Linked DNA regions of Homo sapiens: region 1 is linked to region 2. A link means that fine-mapping ties the variant in region 2 to the expression of a gene that starts in the linked region. Tissue or cell type: whole blood. Region 2 holds a variant in brackets; the other region holds the start of a gene. All regions are shown on one strand. Distances are between the middles of the regions. Region 1 holds the start of MAGI2-AS3 (MAGI2 antisense RNA 3). Region 2 has its middle 41 kb from the start of MAGI2.

Region 1 (4,393 bases), 41 kb before region 2:
GATCTCCAACCACATTAGATCAAATTATGGCAAGATTCAAATAATATCTAATCCAGGTCCTCATCTTATATAGGAATCCCTGGCATATGGTCATTTCAGCCTCTTCATGGATACCCACAATGATGGGAACTTCAGCCAACAGGGTGCTCACAAATTTTTGGAAAACTCTGTTAGAAAGCTCATGATTTAATGAAAGTAAAGCTGCTTCATCCTTTCAAATTTCTCATAGATTTATCACCATTTTGTCCTGTGGGCTATCACAGGATAGTCAGAATTCCTTTTCTTACCTGATAGCTTTTCGCTATTTAATGATAGCTTTCATTCTTTCACTTCTCCACGTTAAGTCTTTCCACGGCATTTCATAGAATACATCTATAATACACAATAATCTTCCTTTATTTCTCTTTTGAACTTACTCTTTGCTAGCGTGACAGTTTGCCAACGTCCGCCTCAACAAGGAGTGCTCAGAATTGAACACAACATTTAAGATGTGATGATCATTGCAAACTATAATAGGGCATCCGTTTGTGGGACTCTATTAAGTCCAATTTAACAACGCTTAACTTTTGCAGCCACGTTCCATGACAAATATCAAGCATTTGGCCAACAAAACCATGGTCATTAGTTGTGTAGTAGACTTTTCGTACCCAAAGATCTTTCCATTTATGTCTATTCCTATAAGGTGGTATTTTGACATCGAACATGTTAACATGAATCTCTGTATTTGAACCTTAGGTATCTTATCTTCAAAAATATCAAGTTACTCTATTTTCCTTCCTACCAAACTCATATCCCTTCAGTGTTAAATAGTATGGAGCTATGTTGACTTATAATAACCTATCTCAATTTATTACCTCTTAATACTCAAGAATACCCAAGGAAAACATTTTCTTGTATGGCAATTTACATTTAAGAAACCTTGCCCAGTACTTCTTTTTATCTTGTTTATTTTAAAACAAGTTTTTTAGAGAATAATTTAACAGTGCGGTACATCTCCGTAAAAGCATTTCTTAGTAGTTGATCATGATTAAGCGGCAAAATGCAGGTAATGACATGCTCAATTCCACCTTTGAGTCAGGACAAACAGTGTACATCGACGACAACAACAAACCCTTATGCTAATATGCCTGTGACGCAAATATCCATACATACCGCACACGAATTGTGCAGTGAGCTAAAAAAGAAAACAGAAAAGAAAAAAGCTACTACTTTATTCTACTTAAAGTTGTCCTCTATTCAAACTTTTATCTCACTCTTCTCTCCTTCTGCACCATAATTTTCTTTCGAGCAAAGACAGGGAGTTCTGGATGATTCCAATCTCCCCAAATCCACATCACAGCCTCCAATTGAGGTTCATTTAAGTCAGGTTGGAGCTGAGGGAGCCTGGGCTGGAACCGGCCAGGGTTTCATCCAGCTCCTCCCCCAAAACACGCCCCCCAAATCGGAGCCAGAGGAGAGCCCAACCACAGAGGACTTCCACTCAATGAGGGCAACCCCTGAGTAAAGTCCATGCGGACAACCATTCATCTCCTCCGACAACCATTCATCTCCTCCGACCCCCGCCCAGCACTAGACTGCGCTCCTAGCACCGCGCCTTCTTCCGGAGCCTCCTCCCCCGGGCTGGCTAGGGGTGAGCGCAGGGGTTAGTCAGTACGCACGTGACGCGCGATGCCCACATGACACGACCGTGAGCGGGGGAGGGGGACACGGAGTGAAGAAGGGGAAAAGTTACAGAAGACCCGTCAAAGCGCCCAAAGCAATTTGTCCCTTCTTTTCTTCGCCAGCGGTGGCTCACGGATCCCTAAGGGACAGCTGGGGACCCAGGCGCCCCCAGCCCAGCCCCAGAAACGCTGGACGCAGTTCTCCGCTCACCCCACCACCTTCTCTTCCCAGACCCGCTGGTGATGCCGCTGCACCCTGAAGTTGCTCCTTCCTTCTTTCCCTCCCTTCCTCCCATTCTTTCTTTCTTTTCTTCCTTCCTCCCTTCCCCAAAAGCTCTTCATCCGCTTCGGGTGATGCCACTGACGCACATTCAATTTGCCCCAGCAGCTCTGAGGAGGTCAGACCAGGCCGAGCACCTTCCAAAGGGGAGGGTCTAACTGAGCAAACAAAGTTGCACGCCACACCACAACCTGCCCCTCCCCTCCCTTTAGCCCCCAAGTCGAATCCCCGGCGAAACTCACTTGCACTGCGGGTGCTCTCTGGCCCCCACCCCATCATCGCGCAACACACCCCCTTCAACATGCGCGGCCACCCTTTCATTGCCCTGCGCCCCGAGCGGTCCCACCGCCCGGCAAAACACTGAGCAAGCCGCTGCTCTCACCTTGCTTGACACACTTGAGCCGGAGGGGGTCCTTGCAGTGTTTGATCACGGCCAGCACGTCCCTGATGGTGAGCCCCGCCACGGGGGTCTCGTTCACCTCCAGCAGCAGCTCCTCCGACACCAATTTGCTGCCGCTCTCATAGGCCACCTTGCCGGGCTTCACCTCCCCCAGGTAGGGGAACTGTCCATTCTCGGCGCCCCCCTTCAGTTCAAAGCCCAGCTGGCCCTCCGGGTTCCTGCCAATGACACTCTCATGGACTTTGCTAGTCCAGTGGCTTTTCTTTTTCAAGCTTTTGGACATGGCAGTGGGGCGAGTCGCCTCAGTTCCTGGGCTCCTTGGGGTTAGGGGGGCTGGTGGTGAGAGAATGAGGATGGAGGAGCAAGGGGGCCCAGGGGGAAGAACAGCAGACTTTGCCTTCGCCCCCCTCTATTCGGTGCTTTCCCTCTTCTTTGGATGGAGTGTGGACGAGGAATGGGGAGGATGAGAGGGACGGCTGGGCAGAGGTAGGAGAGCTTGGATGAGGTTGTGCTGTCCCTTGAATGACACTCAAGGCTGTGGCCCCGCAGCAGAGGAAGCAGTGGTGGTGGCGTCGGCGGCGGCGGCGGCGGCAGCCGGAGCGAGCAGTAGCCGAGCTGGTGAGCGGGTGTGGTGGGGGTGGGGAAGGAGGGTAGGGATGCCGGGGGCCACTCCTGCGTGGTGCGAGTGGGAACGCGCGCGCGCGCCTGGGTGTGTGTTGTTAGCTGATATCCATGGCAGCTGCAGTGGCAGGGTGCGTGTGCGTGTGTGTGTGTGTGTGTGTGTGTACTAGTTCTACTGTACTGGCAGACGGGAGGAGGCAGGGGAGGAGGGGCGCGCGCGCCGGGTGGGGAGCCACGGAGGGCTTCGCCGCTGCCTCCCTCCCTCCCTCCGCAGCTTGACCCGGTAGTGAAGGCAGAGAGAGAGGCAGGCTGGGTCCGCCTGGCAGCCTACGGGAGGAGGCGGGAGCCGGGAAGGAGGGGAGCCTAGGCCCGGCGTGGGGAGGCCGGCAGGAAGGGCCTCGAGCCCAGTGCGGACCTTTCTTCAGCCTCTGTGCGACCGAGCCGCGCGCCAGGCTCCTGTGCGAGGAGGACGCGCTGACTCCCTCCGACCTGGGCTCCGATGGAGCAGAAATAGCGGGACCTGGACTTGTGGCGCGCCTGGTGCCACATCTCGGGCTCTGCGAGCGTCCTGGCGCGGGATCCTGCCGTGAGAAGGAGTTGGGGCGGGGGACCCGGCGGGGCATTGCGGGAGAAGGCCTGGGATCCCTGGGAGCCTTGTAGCGTGGGGGAGTTCACTGTGTAGAGAGGTTTCATGTCTTCATCTATATAGTCACTTATTTGTCTTAAAGTTCTCGAAATTCCCTCTTAGAGAAGGAGAAAGTTAGAGAACTGGAGGCTGCGTACCCTGATTACGCAGAAGGGAAGCAGCCTCGCATTCCCCGGGGCAGGCCCCCGCCCGCGCGTCCCGCCAGTAGGGGAATTTAGCGGACGGCTGCGGTTGTCTGGTGAAAGGCTATCCAAGGATAAGGGGCTTCACTTTTCCCAAGTAGGGGAAAGAGAAGGGGTCTACAGGGCTAGGGGTGGAGGGAGCGGATGCAGTGAGCAGCCTCCGCAGAGAAATTGACAATTTAACCAGGGACCTGCGGCAGAGACAAGGCGGAGACACTCCCTTGCCCAGGAAAGCCGCCAGAGTCCGGCTTGTACCTGGGGAAGAATCCTTAAGACGGTCTGGCCCAACACTCCTTTGCTCACAGAGAAAGGGGAGAAGACTCCCGAGGGTGAAAATGGTACATTCGGAGCTGGAACTCAGCTCGCTGACCCCAAGCAGTGTTCCCTTCTTTTCGCCAGGTTTGCATCCAAGAGAGGGGAGGACAGGGGCAAAAGGATGCAGGGAGGCTGCTGATTTCCACTGAAGAGCTAATTTCCTGTGAGACATTAACAGTGATTTAAGAAAAAGATTCCTGTAACTGGTAAATGAATTTCATTTGCTTAACTTTTAGATGATATGTTTCAGGCAAAAAAAAAGTTGTGCACCCACTTATCTCTTTAAAG
Region 2 (4,393 bases):
GCACTGGTTTGGAAGCACTCTCTCCATCATGGAGTCTTCTGTTAATTCCTCTGGCATGGTGTCTGATATGGTTTGGATGTGTGACCCTACCCAAATCTCATGTTGAATTGTAATCCTTAATGTTGTAGAAGGGGCCTGGTGAAAGGTGAATGGATCATGGAGGTGGACTTCTCCCTTGCTGCTCTGGTGATAGTGAATGAGTTCTCATAAGATCTGGTTGTTTAAAAGTGTAGCATCTCCCCCTGCTCTCTTCCTCCTTCTCTGGTCATGTTAGAGGTACCTACTTCCCCTTCACTTTCTGCCATGATTATAAGTTTCCTGAGGCCTCCAAGCCATGCTTCCTGTACAGCCTGCAAAACTGTAAGTCAATTAAAACTCTTTTCTTTTTAAATTACCCAGTCGCAGGTAGTTCTTTATAGCAATGCCAGAACAGACTAACACAGTGTCTATCAGCTCTTAAAATTTTCTGAAATCTTTATCTTGAAAACCTTCTCCCCTCACCTTTTATTTTGGGTGATGGACATATCCACAATCTCTTTTGTGATTTTCTTGATTGGCTCTCTTGTAAATCCTGTGAAGTCAGGCACAACAACTGAACAGTTTTCTCTAGCAAGAATGTATTGCTTTGGCCTTAATGGCTTTCATGGATTTTCCTGTAACAACAAATGCCTCTTCAATGGTGTAGTCCTTCCAGACATTCATAATACTCTCTCCATCAGAGTTTCTTGACAATCTTTTCCATGGGGTACTGTGTGTAATGAGCCTTAAAGGCCCCTATGCTCCCTAATCTAAAGGCAGCGTTAGAGACATTGTGTTTGGGTGCAAGTAGACCACTTTAATGTTTTAGGTGTTGAATTCATGGGGTTCTGGGTGGCCAGGGGCATTGATTAATATCAAAAGAACTTCAAAACGCAGTCCCTTACCGGTAAGGTACTTCCTGACTTCAGGGACAAAGCATAGATGCAGCCAATCCAGAAAAAGCGTTCATATTGTCCAGGACTTCTTTTTGTACAACCAAAAGACTGGCAGCTGGTGTTTAGCTTTTTCTTTCAAGGCTCAAGGGTTAGCAGCTTTATAGATAGAAGCAGTCTGGATCATAAACAGGACTGGAGGTGGGAGAAGGAGGGAAATGCCTCATTTAGTAGCCTATACCCTACTGGAGTTACTTTACACCCTTTACATTACTTGTAAAAGCTGTATCTAGAAGACGGGATACATGACACAATGTTCAGATATGGGTACAAAATAGTACTAAAAGAAGTCAAATACTACATTTTCTACTTATAAAAAAGGAGTTGGCTCTGGGCAGCCAATAGGTAACAAGAAGGCATTTTGTTCCAAAGATAAGGCATAGACTATATGTTTGTGTCCTCACAAAATTTTTGGGTTCAAATGATTTTTGGAGATAGGGCCTTAGATCATGAGGGTGGAGCAGTCATGATGTGATTTGTTCTCTTATAAGAGGATACATGAGAGTTCTTCCTTCATCCCCCCCCCTTCTCTCTCTCTCCATCCCCTCTTCTCTCTCTCTCCTCTCTCTCTCTCTCCTCTCTCTCTCTCTCTTTCTCCCTCTCTCTCCCTCTCTCTCTGCTATATCAGAATACAAGGAGAAGATGGCCTTCTGCAGATCAGGAAGAGAGCCCTCCTCAAACAGTAAATCTGCTGGCACTTTGATCTTGGACTTTTTACCTGGAGAACTGTGAGAAATAAATGTTGTTTAAGCCATTCAGCCTATGGTATTGTGTTATAGCAGCCTAAATAAGACAGAAGGGGAAGGAGAAATGGAGGAAACAGTGAATGGGGTACTCAAAGGAAGATAAAACTGAAAAATAATATTTTTTAATTTTTTGCACAGGTTCCCTTTTTGAGTGCTTCGTTAACATCTTGGAATTCCATAGTAGCGCACACGTAATCTGCCTTTTATTCCCTTTAAAATTTAGTGTGTTAAAAAGCATGAATTATCTATAAGCCTTTACAGGAAAGAGA[AT/A]TTTTTTTTTCACAACACATAAGTGTGAAGATATCTAGCATTTGTGGTTGGGGTGTCATTTTTAACTGATAACATTCTGCTTTGTCATAGAGTTCCAACAGGAATGCACTAACTACATTACTTTGCTAATCTTAGCATTTGCTTCATATGGTTCTGTGTCAAATTTATTACTTTAATGTTGGTTTAGGACATACGACAATATTTACAATAATAAGCACTAAGAATAGTTTGTGTCCACAGACTACTGCAAGCCTTTGTGGGAGAGAGTGAGAATGGGGATAAGGGAGGTAAGAGATACCATGCTATATTTCAATAGAAATTACCGTCACTTCAGGGATTATTACTAAGTAAAGGAATTACAACAATATTTATTCATGCTTCTTTTTTATATTAAGGAAAAGCAGGATGATTATGAGGAAAGCTTTTATTTATAAAATTTTCACACAGGTTACTTATGAAAATCGCTCTACTTTTTAACCTTAGTTTCTTATATGAATATATGTTCTTTAGTCCATTTGAAATGTTTAATCAAATTAATCCTTTAATCTTTTACTGTTTTACTGAATCCAAATGCACAAAAAAAGCTAATCTTAACATATCTTCTCATGTTGTTTTTTCTGTTCATGATCATTTCCCTATATCACTAAAAACTGTTAAAAAAAAAAAACCTTTGGTAAGCAGCATACCATTTGCATACACAGATATTTGTGCAATTAAGCATTCCCTTTTGTACTATATATGTATGTTACAATTGGAATAGGTTCTGGATAGGGACTTAGTATACAAATGTTTTACGAATGTAGCCTTTAGGGCTACATGGCCACGTTCTCATCTCACCCTCAGTCAGTTCTTAGATACGTGAAGTTGGGCATATTACTTATTTCTTTGTATCTCAGTTTTGTCATCAGTAAAATGGGGATAATAATAGTATATACATTGGAGAATGTTTTGAGGATTATATGAATGAATATATGTAAAGAATTCAGAACATAAGTATTTTATCAACATTTGTTCTTATTATTCCCCTAAATACAGGCTAGAGAAGGAATTGTCCTTTGATCTACAGAACCTTAATATCATCTACACTCATGAGTTAATTAATTGGTAAGGTCACATGTTTATACACTTTGAAAGAATTTTTATAGAATAAAAATTGTGGTTCCATGGAAGCTTAAATGGACATTCCAGAAAAACTGTTCTACAAATTACAACTTTCTAGGAAGAAAACCTATTTTTTTCCAATTTGGTTCATAATCATTTGTCTATCTAGCTCTATTCTTCTTCTTTTTTTTTAATCAACAAAAAATTGTATATATTTAGAGCATACTTGTCCAATTCATGGCCCATGAGCTGCATGCGGCCCAGGACAGCTTTGAATGTGGCCCAAAACAAATTCCTACATTTCTTAAAACCTGACATTTTTTGGTAACTTTTTTAAGCTCAACAGCTATCATTAGTGGTTAGTGTTAGTGTGTTTTATGTGTAGCCCAAGACAATTCTTCCAGTGTGGCGCAGGGACGCCAAAAGATTGGAAACCCTTGATTTATGGTGTAAAACATGATGTTTTGATATATACGTATATACGTTGTGGAATGACTAAACCAAACCATTTAACATGTGGATTACCTCACATACTTAACATTTTTCTGTGGTGAGAACAAAAATTGTACTCTCTTAACAATGTTCCAGCATGCCATATATTGCTATTAACTACAGTCATTATGAAGTACAATACATCTCTTGAACTTATTCCTCCTAAGTAAAACTTTGTGTCCTTTGACCAACATTTCCCAAACCTCTCCACCCTCCAGCCTTTGAATACCACCATTTTACTCTCTGTTTCTATGAGTCCAACTTTTTTTACATTCCACATGTATGTAAGCAGTATTTGTCTTTCTGTGCCTGGCTTATTTCACTTACCATAATGTCTTTCAGTTTCATCCATGTTATCACAAATAACAGGATTTCATTCTGTTTGTGGCTGAGTAACATTCCATTGTGTATATGTACACTACATTTTTTGACTCATTCATCTGTTGATAGACACAGACTGACTCCATATCGTGGCTATTGTGAACAATGCTGCAATGAACATGTGAGTGCAGATATCTCTTTGACATACTGATTTCATATCCTTTGATATATGCCGTAGTTAAATTGCTAGATCATAGAGTAATTCTATTTTTAATTTTTTGAGGAACATCCATACTGTTTTCTATAATGGCTGTACTAATTTGCATTCCTACCAACAGTGTGTGAGAGTCCCCTTTTCTCTACATCCTCACCAGAATTTATCTTTTATCTTTTTGATAATACCCACTTTAACAGGTGAGAGGTGATATCTCATCATGGTTTTAATTTGCATTTTCCTGGTGATTAGTGATAAGCATTTTTTCATTAACTAGA

The links.
Region 1: it holds the start of MAGI2-AS3, and the variant in region 2 is fine-mapped to the expression of MAGI2-AS3 in whole blood (INTERVAL, PIP above 0.99).

Annotation. Positions count from the first base shown.
Region 1 is chr7:79,450,697-79,455,089 of GRCh38, forward strand. MAGI2-AS3 (MAGI2 antisense RNA 3) reads left to right here and starts at 2,261. Exons shown (of 4, transcript NR_038346.1): 1 at 2,261-2,495; 2 at 2,891-2,959. It overlaps MAGI2 (membrane associated guanylate kinase, WW and PDZ domain containing 2), which reads right to left and starts at 2,971. Exons shown (of 22, transcript NM_012301.4): 1 at 2,324-2,971. The coding sequence starts at 2,624. RefSeq lists an enhancer at 1,417-1,711.
Region 2 is chr7:79,492,115-79,496,507 of GRCh38, forward strand. No RefSeq gene overlaps it. Among named protein-coding and RNA genes, the nearest start is that of MAGI2, 41 kb to the left of the region's middle. The variant AT/A (reference allele first, on the strand shown) is at 1,987.